2 separate regions of the Homo sapiens genome follow, and region 2 is linked to region 1. A link means that fine-mapping ties the variant in region 1 to the expression of a gene that starts in the linked region. Tissue or cell type: sigmoid colon. Region 1 holds a variant in brackets; the other region holds the start of a gene. All regions are shown on one strand. Distances are from middle to middle.

Region 1 (8,108 bases):
AGGACAGATTCAGAAAGCTAAGTTGCATGTCAAAATCACAGAGCTAGTAATTATCAGAGTAGAGTTTCCAAGCCAGATATGTCTGACCTCATGCCAAGGGCACTGTTCCATGTGCTTCAAAATGTAATGTGGTATTCATATTTGCAGCAGTTTTAATGGCCTCAAAGAGTAGTAGTATAACTGAGGGTGGAGTGGGATGGCAAAAAAACCCTGGAATTATTGAGAGAGGGGTGTCCTGTCAGAGGAATGTGGGTTTCTTTTTTATTTTTAAAGATCTTTTTCTGAGCCATGTTGTGTTACTATTTACAGCTGCATCATGACCTAAAGGGCCTCTTATAAGCCTCCTTCTCAGATAAATTATCTTTCAGAACATTTTTCACACCCAGCCTCAGGAGACATGTAAATGCCTCTATGTAAAGTCTTTGGATAGAGAATGGTGATAGAGCTTCTTTTGCAGTTTATGAAGTTCTACTTGATATAACTATTATTCTCCAACACTATCGTGATATATAAATCATAATAATCACAGGATATTGAAATTTTAAGTTTTTTATCCCTTATGTAAGGCTCATGGAGGCAGTCTATAATAACAATAGTAGTAATAGCTAACATTTATTTGAATGCTTACTGTGGACAGGACCTATGCTTTGTGATATAATATGGGTTACCTCATTTCATTTTCTCAACAACTCCGTGGGGTAGGAGTTGGGATTTGAAAGGACCAATACAAAACATTCATATTTTCCCTAAGTTCTAAGCCAATTTAGAGGTAGAAACAGGAATTAAACAGATGAAGATCAAAATGCCACCCTAAAGGCTAATAATACTGATAGTTAAGGCACGAGGCTTAGGACAACTAGCCAAGTAGGGTTGCAATACTTTGCTCATGAAAAGGAGCCAAGTTGTAGTCACTGTCAGCTCTTAAACAACCACAGGCCTCCTTGCAAGGGCATCTTCCCCTATTTTACTTATAGCACAGAATTGCTGAGGAAGATAAGCTTCTCTACAAATAGGCAGATCCCACATGAAAAAAAAAAAGAGAAAGAGTGTGAGGTGAGTGTAGGCAATGATTTCTCCCAAGGAAACAGATAAGCAACCCCTCTTACAGCGAAAAGTGAGGAGAAGGAGAAGAGCCAGGAGTGTTAAATCTACTGGAGTCTCCACCCCACAGGATCATGGAAAAGGAGGTCTTTGTCCCCAGCTGTAGGTACTAAACATGCGGCTATCCTGCAGATAAGGAATGAGGCACTGAGACACTAAGTGACAGTTCACTATTAGTAAGTGGCAGAGAAGTCTAAATAAGGTCAGTCCATAAGTAAGAGGTAGAGTCAGGGCTGAACAAGCCAGGCTAGGACGGGCTCAGGCTCAGTTCAGGAACAAGGCAATGGAAAATTAAGATGGGAGGGCAGATGTGAAAGGGATTACAAAAAATAAGTGATAAGAGTTGGATTCACTTGTAATGAGAGTTGGGATAGAGTCAAAATGACTCAAAGCTTTTAGCATTTCTAGTTGGAAACAATGAGAGCATTAAGAAAACAGTGTTTCCAGGAGTGAATAGCCAGTGTTTTTGGACATGAGAGTTTGAGGTACCCTGCAGACTATTGGAAATTTGAGTCTGTAACTTGGGAGAAAGATCGGAAGCAGAGATGCAGATTTTATAGTTGTCCATTTAAATAAAGGTGATAGGTGGCTGAAACTAAGGGAATGCTTAAGTCTGAGCAGTGAAAGAGGAAGTTGGTTTCACAGATGAGTTTCATCTTTGAAATACACTAAAAGATTTGAGTTGGTAAACATCAGCAACTTGATCTAGTTTAAAGGCAAAGCCCAGCGTGAGCTCAGGACTTGACTTCACCTTTTTACCATAGCCCTAGAATGCTGCAAGGCAAGCTTACGGATCACACTGGTATGCAACACAGTTTTTGTTTCCCCCTGCAGGTTCACTGTCCATCCCACTTCCACCCTGTTCTCTGACCTGGGAGGCTGAAAACATTTATGGACTGCATCAGTTGGGCTCCCATTGGGTTCAATTACCTCTGAGACTTGGAATGCAGGAGTAGGTGTGGCTGATGTGTTTACCTCCTTGGTTCTTTCACTGTCAGATCCTGTGGACTGACTGCTTCCCTTCAACAGGGACTTTCTACGTCAACTCTCCAAGATTCTAGTAACTGCTCTCTCCCTCTGCCCCCTTAAGTCTAGAGGTGGTAATAGTTTCCCACTGTTACTAGACCCAAGGCACTCCACTTCCTTTATTAAGTTCTACTTGATGTAACTGTTATTCTCCAACACTATCATGATATAGTGTTGTTAGATATTATTAACACTGCTTATACCTTTATAAACAATGTCTTTATTGAAGTCTTCCCTTCCCAGTTCCTTAAATAATATACCCAGTAAACCAGAAAGAACTCATGTTCTCCAAGGCACAAGTCCTACTCTTAATAAACAGAGGGACTTCATCGGGGTGGGGGTGGGGGCGGGGGCAGGGCAGGGGCCGGTCTCAGAACTGGGAGGGAACAATAGACTTAGTACAGAGACTGTAAATCCATATGTACATATAATATTGTTGGTGGACAGAATATCTTACACAGTTACATGATTCTTCAAATGTGTAAGTGCCTTAGTGATTCATAAGAAAATTTATTTGAAAATTCATCAAATTTATTTTACTTATTGTCTTTATACAGATTCTTAACTAACAAATGGCTTATGGCTTATATTAAGAATATAACTATTGCTGTGTTTGGCTAAGGACATCTTTTTTTTTTTTTTTTTTTTTTTTTGAGACAGAGTTTTGCTCTTGTTGCCCAGGCTCAAGTGCAATGGCACAATCTCGGCTCAACGCAACCTCCTCCTCCTGGGTTCAAGTGATTCTCCTGCCTCAGCCTCCCGAGTAGCTGGGATTACAGACATGCACCACCACGCCCAGCTAATTTTGTATTTTTAGTAGAGATGGGGTTCCTCCATGTTGGTCAGGCTGGTCTTGAACTCTTGACCTCAAGTGATCCGCCCACCTCGGCCTCCCAAAGTGCTGGGATTACAGGCGTGAGCCACTGCGCCTGGGCTGGACATGTTTTTAAATGTACAGACTGTACTCACATGCAAAGAATCTGGGAATTACTTCCAAGGACTTTGTTAAAAGTTCATCAAACTTTCTTCGGTTCCAAACTAGAGGGAGGTGGAATGAACTGGTTTAACAATATCTATTTCTATCAGGATAGGAACAAAAACGACCATCCGTATCTTGAAGGAATTTTTGTAAAATCATTTCTAACTCATTTCACAGCAGAAATTCAAGCCCCCGTCTTACAAAAAAATAGTACACCACATTCTCAGCCTTGGCAACACCTTGTCCTTTGTGTGACCTGCTGTGGCTCAAGCAGTGAGCAGAGTCTACAGAACACAAAAATAAACATCTCTACAGGCCTGTGGAATGTGATGGCCAGCGTGATGTGGGGCAGACTGTGGGCCGAGTGCCAGGCCCTGTAGGTGAGCCCTCCTGCGGCCCACTTTGCAAAAGCAGAAAGAAGGGGCAAATCTGCCAGTGAATTTCTGTTTCCACCTTTGGCCTGGTCTGGGGTCAGGGCCTAGGTATGTGCCCAGAGAGATGTAGTCAGTTAGGGTTCTATGACCCCAGTGCTGGGAAGGCTGGTTATGGTGGATAAAAAGATCAAAGAAAGGGTTTCTTGTTACCATTCTTCAAGCTCCGTGTACCATTTCCCCATGTAATTTGAGAAATTATCCTGAACCAGAGAACTGGGAAGTTTGTTCAGTAACTGCTTATTGAGTCCCTGTTCTCTCCCAGGCATGATCCTAGGCACTGGAGATAGTGGGGAGTGGGAGCCTCCAGGGTCCCTCCTCTTAGGGATCTCACACTCTGAGTGCAGAACTATGTTCTTCTGCCTGCACTCCTACAAACACCAGTTCTCCGTAGTACTCCATGACATGAGGGGTTAATTTCTAGCTGACTGAAATAATGGACTCATTG[C/T]CCCTCCCATTTCAACAGCATGGCGGATGGCAGCGATTACAGAGTGAAGGAAATATCGTGGTATGGAGAGCAGCACTGTTCTCAATAATAGGCTCTCTGATGACGAACAAAAAGACTCTGTGAAATGCATCTCAAACTCCCAGGTTCTCCTTTACAGCCAAGATGCCTCCGATATAATCTGACTTAATGATGCCATACTCTGTAACAGAGTACAAAATTAGAATAAAAGAGTTATACAAGGCACTGAGTTAGACACAAAAATTTATTCATGGAACTACACAAGTATTGAGCACCGACTTTATGCCAGACACTACACCCAATGTTATACCAGAACCCTATTACTGCAGAAAATGTAGTTGGGGGCAAGCTTCTGGTTATGAATTGCACATTCAACCACTCAGAAGTAAGCATTTTTCTGATGTTGCCTAGAATCGGTGGCTCTGTGGATTAGGAACTGAAAGGGTGGGAAAGAATTTTGCTTTCTACTGTCTGCCTCGTATGTGAATCACGAGTTGTACCTTTTTCTTCCTTTCTGTAGACCAAATACCATATAAATCACTCTGCTGTTTATTCTAAGTCTTATGTAAAGTGTTCCTGTCCTCAAAGCATCACACACAATGTAGAGGCTTTGGCAGTTTCTTTAGCAAAGGTCAGTGTTTCAGTTTAGTGCCCAAAGGTCTCTGACAAACATCCAAAAATTTCTGGTTGAAGTCAGTAATTATTTACTCCCGTTACCAGGATTTGTTTGAGGACTAAGCAGAGAGAAGCAGAAAGGAAAAATAAGCACATCAAAAAAAGCAGTCTTAGTCTCTCTTCACCTAGAACATTATATATGTATTGTCTCATGGCACATGTGTAATGTCAGTAAACAATAAAAATAAATAAATCAATTTCCAGTTGAAGGCATCTCCAGGATCCAGAGGCTCTAAGTGGATGAAAACAATTGGGTGCTTGGGCCAGAGACTGTGCAAGCCTAAGCAGAGAGAGAGGGGTTTCTTAACTTCCCTCCCACGTTCAGTCCCTTTGGAACTCGAGTTTGCCCCTAGGATAGAAGTCTGTAAGGCTACCAGCTGGAACCCTTTGCTACACTGCTGTAAAGGCTGTGCAGAAAAAAATGTTGGAATTCTCTCATACTTGGAAAATTACCCTTTAATACACATGGTTTCCTCTCTGTTTCCTAGCCATAGGCCAGGATGTTAACTGGGGTGGGGTAGAGGCAGACATTTAATTCTTGTTAAGAGGGAGTAATAAAATGTGAAGTGATAGGGAGCCAATCTATCGTTTTCTGAATATCCACAAGAGGCTTACATTTAGCAACAACATTTAGCAAACACATGTCAGGCACTGTTTAGTTGCTGGGGACACAACATCCAACATGACAGTTATGGCTTCTACCAAGACGCAGCTTAAAGGCCAGGGAGAGGCAATGGTTTGCGGTGAATAAGAGCACAAGCTTTGAAATCAGACCTGAGGTAGAATCTTGGATAGAGCATTCCTTACTTTGTCTGTAAAATGGAGATTATAATACCTACGTCACAGGGTCAAGATGAAGATAACATGGAATAACATATATGTAGCAGTGAATTCAGAGCCTGGTGGATTCAGTGCCCCTAAATAGTAATAATCATTGTTACTGTTATTACTTTGTGGCTTATTCTGTGTTCCAAGAGTCAGACACTTGAGCTCTGAGTGCTGGCTGGTACCTCCGTGACATGAATGCCACACTCTGGTGTGCGCTGTTTAGAGAGAAGCTGGTTGTGTTAAATACTGTTCGTTTTCTAGTTATAATGGTTGATTTTCTTGCTTTGTGAAGATTAGACCTCTCTGATGAAGATAAAGTGCTTTCCATGTTTCTTTCAGCTGAATGGCCATTTAAAAACTAGTGACAGTTATTTACACTTTTATTTCTTATGACTTGAGGGGGTTCTCCCTGGTGAAGGCAGAACTTATTTCATTCATTTATTAGGCGTAGAGTAAGCTCTTATTCTGAACCAGGCAGTGTGTTTGGGTGCGTGTGTGTGCATGCATGTATTTTGTTTGGGTTTGGGTAAGGTGAGAGGAATTGGGGGAAGATGCAAAGGTGACTTGCTCTGGGAGTTAAACAGTCTAGTGGGAGACAGAGAGAAAGGTAAATAGATAACAAGAATGTATTTGATAAGTGCCAGGAAAGGCATACACAGAGATCTCCAAAAACCTGGAAGAGGGAGATGCCTGTTTTAAGGCATAGAAGCAGTGGAATCAGGAGTGATAGGTAATTCAGGTGGGGAAGTGTGGAAGAAAGGAATTTGAAGGTAAAATGAATAGCATGTAAAAAGATATAAAGCCTGAGTTTTTCAGTGAGTTGAAAGAAATTTATAGTATTATAGGATAGGTGGGTATGGTAGTGATGGGCTAGGAGTGAGGCTGATATTTGGCTAAGGAGATGATCATATTTATGGGCTGAACGTGGCTTCTGCTGAGGACTTCAAGGACCAGCCAATCCTCAGGCAAACAGATTATGGCTGAGGACACTGAGTTTCCATGATTAGAAATATTATCTGTGTGTTTCCCTCTTGCTTCTCTACAGAGACAGGAGTGAGTGTGTAGATCAAAGAGCTTCAAATGGGACACATTAAGGGTTACAAAGGTACCCTAAAAGAGTACCTCCCCACTGCAGAGGTAATAGTAGAGTTCATTTAGAAATCTTCTCTAGTGAGTTGCGGTAGGGTTGAAACTTACTCGTAAAACAATATAGATACGAAAAAAATTACAACTTGTTTGTTGCTATAATAAATGTAAACTTCTTCATAAGCCTCCATTTTAAATGAAGGCAAGAGTGGGGAGTTTATTTTGCTGCTTTTGTCCTCTCTAAAAAACCTTTGCCTATTCCCAAGTTATAAAGATTTTTTTCCCTCTGTTTTCTTCCATAAGTTGTATAGTTTTCTTTTACGTTTACATGTTCTATCTATAGGTTTGGTATAAATGGAGTGACAATAAGAGTCAAGATTCATTTTTCCCCATGTGAATAAATGTGTAGGTCTGTATCTGAACTTTCTATTCCGTTCCACTAATATAATGTGCCAATATCACACTGTTTTGATTACTCTGGTTTTAGAACAAGTCTTGAAATCAGTTAATGTAAGTCTTCAACCTTTGTTCTTTCTTTTAAAAATATTTTGGCTTTTCTAGGTCATTTGCAGTTCCATATAGATTTTAGAATCAGCTTGTCAGTTTCCATTAAAAAAAAAAAAAAGACTGCTGAGGCCAGGTGTAGTGACTTATGCCTGTAATCCCAGCACTTTGGGAGGCCGAAGCAGGAGAATCGCTTGAGCCCAAAAGTTTGAGACCAGCCTGAGAAACATAGTGAAACCTCATCTCTACAAAAAAATACAAAAATTGGTTAGATGTGGTGGTATGTGCCTGTAGTCCCAGCTGTTTGGGTTGCCGAGGTGGTAGAATCACTTGAGCCCAGGAGGTCAAACCTGCAGTGAGCCATGATAGCGCCACTGCACTCTGGCCCAGGTGACAGAGTGAGATCCTGTCTCAAGAAAATAATAAAAAAGAAAAAAATTTAAAAGAAAAAATACTGACCAGGCACGGTGGCTCACACCTGTAATCCTAGCACTCTGGGAGGCCAAGGCAGGTGGATCCCTTGAGGTCAGGAGTTCGAGACTAGCCTGGCCAACATAGTGAAATCCCATCGCTACTAAAAATACAAAAATTAGCTGGGCATGGTTGTGGGCACCTGGATTCCCAGCTACTCGAGAGGCTGAGGCAGGAGAATCACTTGAACCTAGGAGGTGGAGGTTATAGTGAGCCGAGATCGCCCCACTGCACTCCAGCCTGGGCAACACAGCAAGACTCCATCTCAAAAAAAAAAAAAAAAAAAAAAAGAAAGAAAAGAAAAGAAAAGAAAAAAGAAAGAAGTAATGCTGCTGGAATTTTGTTTGGGATTTCACTGAAACTATCAACTAACTTAAGTAGATATGACATCTTCCAAGTCTTCCAATCTGTGAACAGGGTATCTCTCTTTCTCTCTTTTTTAGGCCTTTGTAAATTTTTCTTATTGCTGTTTTATTATTACATTATTATTAATGTAAAAATAATGCACATGTTGTGTTGAATCTATTTCTTGGCATTTCAT
Region 2 (8,106 bases), 59 kb before region 1:
TCTATCTTGACCTGGACACCCCAAATATTACTTATCTGTAGCCAATGTTCCCTTTTTTTCTGTACTGAGTCCACACATTCTTGTTTGACCAAATAACAGGAACAAACAATTCTTTTCATAATGGATGTACCCTAAGGTGTCAGGCTTCTCAGAATCCTATCTGAAAATTAATTCCACTGAACCATGGTGCAATAGGATTTTAGTTAACACACGTGTTATTTATTGGCTACAAATGGTAGGGATTTGACAAAATATTCTGTGCCTCCAGGCCAGAAAAGTACAAATAGTACTCAATTCTGAGTAGGGAAGAAGAGGAAGGGAGAAAGTTAGAACACAACTATTAATGCATGTGGAGGTACCAGATCAGCTGACCACATCAGCGAAAGGTTACTTAACTAATAATGATGTACCATTAATGCCATGTCCCTATTAAAGAAAAAAAATATTCAATGTCACTTGTTACAGCATGGTAAAGAAGACTATTCAGGACCATTGAGACAGATACAGGGACCACTACAACGAAGACTTGCAGTAGGGTAGAGAGATGGGGCTCCACTATGAATACAGCAGAGGAAAATCGGAATTTATAGCCAAGAAACAGGATATGGGACTCTAGTTAAATCGACCTAACAGGATTCTTACTAAAGACAGGCCAAGGTGATTAGATATCACCTGGAGGACAGTGGAGGATGAGGAACCCTTGGGTGATCAGTTGTCAATGGGAAGGGACGTTATTGCCAAACTGATTTTGCCGGGTTCTTTGATAAACTGGAATTTACAAGGAAATACACACATGGTCTTAGGAGAAAGTTCAGGAGCCTGACTAAAGTTTGGCCAAGGAAAAAAATCTTTGTCATTCCCCAATATTTTTAAGGTAAAAGACTATTAATACTAATAAGGATTAATATTTTTTACACATGTATAATATGCAAGGCATTGAATTAAATACATTCTATAGATTAACTCATTTTGATTATCACAAAGCCTCGATGTAGGTTTAATTTTCATTCTATTACTTGCTTTTAGACAGATGAAGTTCTGACTATGACTTGGAAAAGCTGGGTATCTGGGCTCATTTCTTTACCAAAATCCTGGCCTCTAAGCGTCACTGTCCAGTAGAACTTTCTGTGATGAAGAAAACGTTTTGAGTGCTATCCAGTATGGTAGACATTAGCCACATCTTGGAGTGAAGCACTTGAAAGGTGATTAGTGCAACAGACTAGTAGTAAAAAAGAAAAAAGCAAAACACACACAAGAAACCTCAATTTTAATTACGATTATAATTAATTAACTAAAATGTAAATAGCCATATTTTATAGCCGTGTTGGGACTGTGCAAACATAGCACATTTCCATCACTGTAGAAAATTCTGTTGGACAGTGCTATTTGGAAGAAATGTTGCTCCTTCCCTTTCCTCCTAGGTTGGATTCTAGGGTTCCTTTGCTTTGCTTTTCTTCTGCACAGCGATAGCAGTCCAACATTCTCCACCCCCAATCCTCCAGCCTCAGTGAAAGGAGATTGTTTTGCTTTGTGCATCTCCCTTTCTCCACTTCCATGCTGCCTGTCAGCAGCTATGTCAGGTCTTGAGCGTGGAACCCCAAAGGGGTAGGCACACAGAAGTGACCCGTCTGTATCCGGCACTGCCTATACGCATTGCACTCACCATCACCATCATCAACCCACAGTTACTGAACTCGTAAAGGATGAAAATCATCCTGCCAGAGATAGAATCAGACACACAAAATCTGAACTTCTAATGAAACAACAACATCAGTGACACAGCATTGAATAGAATAAACACAGTATTAGCTTTGGTCTTTGCTAGAGCCCCCTGTAAGTGGTGACTTAGACGAAAGGAAGCCTTGTGCGGTGTCCTAGTCTCCAAAACTTTAAAAACTGTTGTCCTACATTATTTAAATGGAAAGTGAGACTTATTTGCCACCCAAAGCAATGTTTAACTGAAAGAAGCATTTTTCTGAAACTCAAAGGTATTCAAGCCTTTAACCTAAAGACCTTCACGGCTGAGAGGTCAGGGCTCACTCATGGCAGCCTCTACATTTACAGGTTCATTTTCAATGCTAATGAATTCTTTTACAAGCTGTATTTGTTCTTTCTTTTGTGAGTTTTGAACATTTATTCACTAATCATCACTTAAATCTAACCTAGGGTTTTTTGCAAGTGAAAATAGGACTTAAATTCAGATTTATAGTTAAAGGGCAGGAAACTGAGAGGAGGGGGATGACTAAAAATAGCCAGAGGGTAAAATGAGAAAGGACTATACTAGACTATTTAAAAAAACCCCTGGCTTGCACAGTGGCTCAAGCCTGTAATCCCAGTGCTTGGGGAGGCTGAGGCAGGAGGATCCCTTGAGCCTAGGAGTTCGAGACTGCAATGAGCTATGATCGCACCACAGCACTCTAGCCTTAGCGACATAGTGAAATCCCTTCTTTAGAAAACAAACAAAACGAGACTCCTTCCCAAAAAAAAAAAAAAAAAAAACATACCTACGGTGCCTTGCTGCGTGGCAAATGCTCCCTACTGTTCATCAGTAACTCTTTGTCGGGCAGATCATGAGGTCAGGAGTTCGAGATCAGCCTGGCCAACATGGTGAAATCCCGTCTCTACCAAAGATACAAAAAATTAGCTGGGCGTGGTGGCACGCGCCCGTAATCCCAGCTACTCCGGAAGCTGAGGCAGGAGAATCGTTTGAACTAGGGAGGCGGAGGTTGCAGTGAGCCAAAATCGCACCACTGCACTCCAGCCTGGGCGACAGAGCGAGACTGCTTCTCAAAAATAATAATAATAATAATTCCAAAAAGCCTAATTCATTTTGAAATTTTGACATACAGCGAAATCACCAGGGAATCTTGCAAAAAATGCAGATTCTGATCCGCGGTTGGGCCTGAGATTCCGCATTTTTAACAAGCACCCAGGTGATGACCTCGCTGTTGGTCTACGGGCCACTCTTGAAGAAGTGAGGACGTAGGCTCCAAGATATTGGAACCAGACCTTGTCAGTTCAGAGGCCTTGCTTCTGACAAGGAGAGGACTTTACAGAAAGTTCGCCTGGAACCTGTCCTACGTGGGGTACGTCCTGGCAGCTCCCTTTTCAGGCTTTGAGTCAACGTTTGGGGAATTGTATTATGTACCGGGCGCCTACACCTCACTCATTTCATACTCGCAGCAACAACATGAAGTGGGCGCTATCATCCTTTGTTTTACAAGCAAAAGTGAGGCTCAGAGAGTTAAATTGCCCAAGGTTATGAGATTTTCAGATGCGTTGAACCCAGGTCCTTTTGACTCCAAGAGATAACGCTTTTCACTAGCATTCTGGAGCTTCAGTTTCCTGTGCTGTGAAATGGGAAGGATTGGCTAGCAGGGTCCGGATCCCTGCCAGATACACCTAAAGGAGGCCTTGTATTTTTTCTCGAGATCTTGCTCTTTGACCCTGAGGGGAAAAGTTCTTTTTGGGAACACCGAGCTCCCCTCGGCTTGCCGAGGTCAGGGGTCATGGCTCTTCCCGGGGAGGGTCCGGCAGTCCTAGAGCGGTTTGGCTGGGGACACAGAAAGCCGGTGCATTACATAACCGCGAGACGTCCCTCCTCCGCTGCGCCCCTCGCCCCTAGCCAAGCCACAGTACTTAGAGCGGATCCCCGCGCTAAATCCTCTTTGCCGGCCAGGCAGAGTCCCCGGCGGAGCTGGCGGGGCTGAATGAGCCGGTGCATTTCGAAGGCCGAGCACTGGGATTTTCCGCGCTACGCTTCCCTCTCCCGGCGTTGCCAGCTAGGCCCCCGGCCCCAGCCTCGCCGGCGCCTCCGCCCAGTCCGCTCCCCGCCCCACCGAAGCGCGGATCGCGCAGCCTGGGGCCCGGGAAGGGGCCACTGCGCAGGGACGCGGCTCGGCGGGTGCGCCCCGGGGGCATGTCCGCGCGCTACCGCCAGGGCTGCAGTGGTCCCGGCGAGGTGAGGAGGCGGCGGGGCCGGGCTGGGGGCGGGTGTGGCAGGAGGGCGGGCGGGGCATGGGGGTGGTCTGCGCGCTCTGGGCGGGCTGCAGAGCGCTGGAGCGCTGGAGCTCTGGGCTGTCCCGGGCTCAGTCTCGCCGGCGGCCCCCGCTCCCGGATCCCCAGCGCCCTGGCCAAGAAGCTTCCTCGGCTCCCCCTCTTCCCTCTCCCTGACACGGTTGTGCAGAGGGCGCGGTGGCTCAGGTGACACGGGCATCCTTCAAGGAAGGGCGGCGGGACGGCGGGGCGCTGGCGCTGTCGTTGGAGCTGGAGGAGGACGGGGACCCTCCATTCTCCGCTGCCCTAGCGCCCATCCCGCGCCGGGAGCCTGGGACCCTAACTTGGGTGCGTCGGCGCGCAGCTTGGGTTGGGAGGGAGACACGTGCTCACTTGCCCTGTCTGGGTTGGGTCTGCGCTGCGGCCGAGTTTTTGGGCAGGTGGCTGGAGAACGAGCGGCTTTGATCTCCATCTCTTGTGGTTTTCAAATGCAGACTTCTCGGTGGAATAGAGACCATCTTTCTTCTGGATTTTATGTTTATAGTACATTTTAAAAATCTCTCCCCGTCCCCCACCTCAGACAATAATATTTATTTCCCGTGTGTGCTATATTAAAAACACACCGGCTTTCAGTGGATTGAACTCAATTTCTCAGTTGCTTCTTGTCCACAAATAAACCAGTGATACCTGTATTGTGGACTCGGAAAAGCGTTCGTAACAAAATTTTGAAGCACAATTTCAGTAAGTCCTGGGGCTATTTGGTTAGTCTTCCGTTTTCACACATCAGCATTCTAAACCTCTTATACTATTTATTTATTTAGAGACAAGGTCTCGCTCTGTCGCCCAGGCTGGAGTGCAGTGGCGCGATCTCAGCTCATTGCAACCTCCGCCTCCCCGGCTCCAACGATCCTCCCTCCCCAGCATCTGGAGTAGCTGGGACTAAAGGTGCGCGCCACCACGCCCGGCTAATTTTTGGATTTTTTTTTTTTTTTTTTTTTTTTTTTGCAGATACAGGATTTCGACATATTGGCCGGTTTGCTCTCGAGCTCCTGGGCTCAAGCGATCTGCCCGCTTTAGCCTCCCAAAGTGATGGGATTACAGGCGTGAGCCACCGTGCCTGGCCATAATTTTTAAAAATGTCTAGTCAGGTGAGTCCTGCCAGGAAACTGGTTAAACACTCTCCTTTTGAAGAGCCTCTAATTAGTTCATCCTACCTGGTTCTTTGCTCAGAGCTAGGCACTCCCGCGGCGTCACCAGCTTAGCCCAGGGGGAAAATCTTCCGGCCTTTCAAATTCAGAAACACATTCGCTCCACAGGTGTAAGCTCGCTAACAGTTAAAATCATCAGCTAGCTGCCCTTGCATTGTTTGTCGCTCCCCCTCCATAAATGTCGTGCCAAACTGTGGCTAATGGTGTTTGACATCCTCCACCCCCTGCGCCCCCAAGGTGACCGGATGTTTGCTGAAGAAATGAAGGATGTAAAAGAGTAGTGGTAGTAATTAGGTGAACTGGATTTAGTCACTTATAATTACAGGGTTTAGAGAAACTTTGAAACTGAAAGGCTTTGGAGACCATCTACTAAATTCAAACTCTTCACGTTACAGCCCAGGAAGCTCAGATCCAGATTGGCAAGGATTGGCTGAATTCATACTGTTAACTGGTGATGGAATCAACACTAGAATCCAGATCTTCTCATTCCCACCTAACTCAGTTTTCCAAGGCATATTGCCTCTAGGCATTTTGAGCAAAAATAATATGACTAGCATCACCTAATCACATCATTTTCCTGTTCTTATTTTTTATGTTTTTTTTTTTTAACTGATGGGATTCTGAAATAGATGAGAGGTTGATTTAATCAAATTGCTTTTGTGGCACAATTTTTAAAGGTGCAAACCTTTAATTTTAAGTAATATTTTAAATTATTTTTATATTATGGATATACAGATACTTCTCAGGTGAATGCCCAGAAGAAGAAAATTAGTCCAAATAGATGGGAGTAACTCTACCCCCATCTTTCCTTGGAGTCTTTTCTGATTCTCAGCACCCTCTATGGTAATGATCGATCAGAAGTAAAAACATGAATTATAGTGTTGAAGTGTTTTATATGAGGACTGTTTGTTTATTGTGATTAATACTATGACCAAAACAAAGCTAAGAAAGGAGTTTCAAAGTGACTTATTTAACATTGCATTGCACTGCATATTTTTCAATTTAGTTCAATTGAGCAGATATTTATTGAGTGCCTACTGTATGCCTAGTGCTGTTCTGGGCATTTGGGATATGTCAATGAACAAAACAAAGAACTTTGATCCTATAGAGCTCAAGTTGCAATTTATTCACTAGAATTTTTCCAGGATTTCTTAGGCAGGTACAAGAGAATTTCAGTTTTACCTAAGCAGGAAAATAAACATAAGTGATCCAAACTATCTTCCTTCCAATCCTGCAATTCTGAGAATCTTATAATCATGGAAAAAAAAAAAACTAAAAACGACAACAACAACAACAAAAAAACAAATTCAGGTGAAGTTACTTTGACTTTTATGAGCTGACATTTTACTGTAAGTGAATTGCAGTTCCCACATTTGGTTATTTAATATATGTTCATTTGGAGTCAATGAAATTACATTTCCTTTATTGCAGGGAGATCACCTTGGTGACTAAACTTGAAGCACGGGATGATTTGTTTTCTTAAGAGTGTTAGTGGTACCATGTTAGTATTGGAGACTAATTAAATTAGTTTATAAGATGTTGCTTTTTATTTATTTATGAAGATGGTGTTCTGTTGTTATTTTGTCTCACTTTACATTTTGTCCCCCACTTTCCTCCATATTCATAGACTATTAGACATTCCAGTTTTAAGCATTTTCTAATTCTCTCAATTGCTTTTTCTTCAAAACAGCATAGTTTGCAAGCTCAGGCATGTTTATTGTTTTTAACAAAGGCTTATCGAAATGAACTTGGCAGTTTTTCAGTCGTATACAGCCAAAGAAAAGTATTCAGTGCCGCTTTTGGGGTTGTTTATGCATTCCTCACCTAACCAGTTGCTTTGCTTTTAAAAATTGCCAATTTGGAAGCTATTTTCTTATGAGTACCTTTCCAGTGTATATAAAAAGTCACCCATTGAAATGATATAATAATTTAATTGATGAAAACTAAATACACAGTTGAAGAGGTTGGGGGATTTTGAACAGAAAGATTTTCCCTCTGATAATATTTTTAATGTGCTCTACATCAAAGGACATCAGAAAGTGTCATTATCTAACAATGTCCTGTTTGAAGGTGGTGTCTGTTGAACATTTGGGGAACAGTCACAATTTCTGATGCATGCTAGGCACCTGGAGTAGCTGATTTTTTTTTCTTCATTCACCCACCACTGTGCCCCATCAGATACATATCCTTCCTTCATTTACCGCGCATTGACGAGTAGGGTTAATTGCTGTAGCCAGGTAAGATGTTGCATGAAATTAATTAATTATTTAATTAGTGTGCTCATTCATTTATTAATTTAATGAATATTTATTGAACTTCTACTTCTTATTAAAAGATTTGTATAAGGATTTGTGTGAAGACTGTGTTTTGAGCATCTCTTTTCTGGTGCTGGTGACAGCAGGACGTGTAAAGACACAGAACATGCCTCTGATGCAGCTTACATCCTGGTATGGAAGAGAGGACATTGTATGGCTAGCTATCATACCGATTCAAACTACCATAAGAGATGCATAAGTACTTTGGGAATTAAAAGGAAGAAGAGAGAGCAGGCAGGCACTGTGAAGATTTGAGGGTTAGGGAAGACTTTGTAGAGGAGGGCCCATTGGAGTTGCTTCTTGAAAGATGGTAAAGCACGGTAAAGCTTTTATAGAGGCAGAGGATATACCTATCTTTATGGCAGCACATCCTTGCCTCTTTTTGAAGACACGTAGAGAACTTCCTCTTGGGAACCAGTTGAGGCTGTGTTGGGTCATATAATAGACACTTATCACCTCTCTGCCCCTCTACATGCATGTGACTCTGTTCTGCTTAATGAAATACTGCCCAACACTGAAACAACTCATTGGATTAACCAATGCTCTCCTCCTCTGAACCACATCCTGGTGGTTGCTCAGACACAGAG

Direction of the effects. Alleles are on the strand shown, and positions count from the first base shown. SD is a standard deviation of normalised expression in the study named.
For the expression in sigmoid colon of the gene that starts at base 4,051 in region 2, C is the low allele of the variant in region 1 and T is the other (large effect, 1.2 SD a copy in GTEx).

Evidence for each region. PIP is the estimated chance that this variant, and not a neighbour inherited with it, causes the effect.
Region 2: SLC16A12 starts here. The variant in region 1 is fine-mapped to the expression of SLC16A12 in sigmoid colon (GTEx, PIP 0.99). The same link has a PIP of 0.9 or more in tibial nerve.

Annotation. Positions count from the first base shown.
Region 1 is chr10:89,472,237-89,480,344 of GRCh38, reverse strand. The region is part of intron 2 of SLC16A12 (solute carrier family 16 member 12); the gene reads left to right. Among named protein-coding and RNA genes, the nearest start is that of SLC16A12-AS1, 20 kb to the right of the region's middle. RefSeq lists an enhancer at 3,478-3,978. The variant C/T (reference allele first, on the strand shown) is at 3,986.
Region 2 is chr10:89,531,539-89,539,644 of GRCh38, reverse strand. It overlaps SLC16A12 (solute carrier family 16 member 12), which reads left to right and starts at 4,051. Exons shown (of 8, transcript NM_213606.4): 1 at 4,051-4,203; 2 at 5,005-5,144. RefSeq lists an enhancer at 4,885-5,784.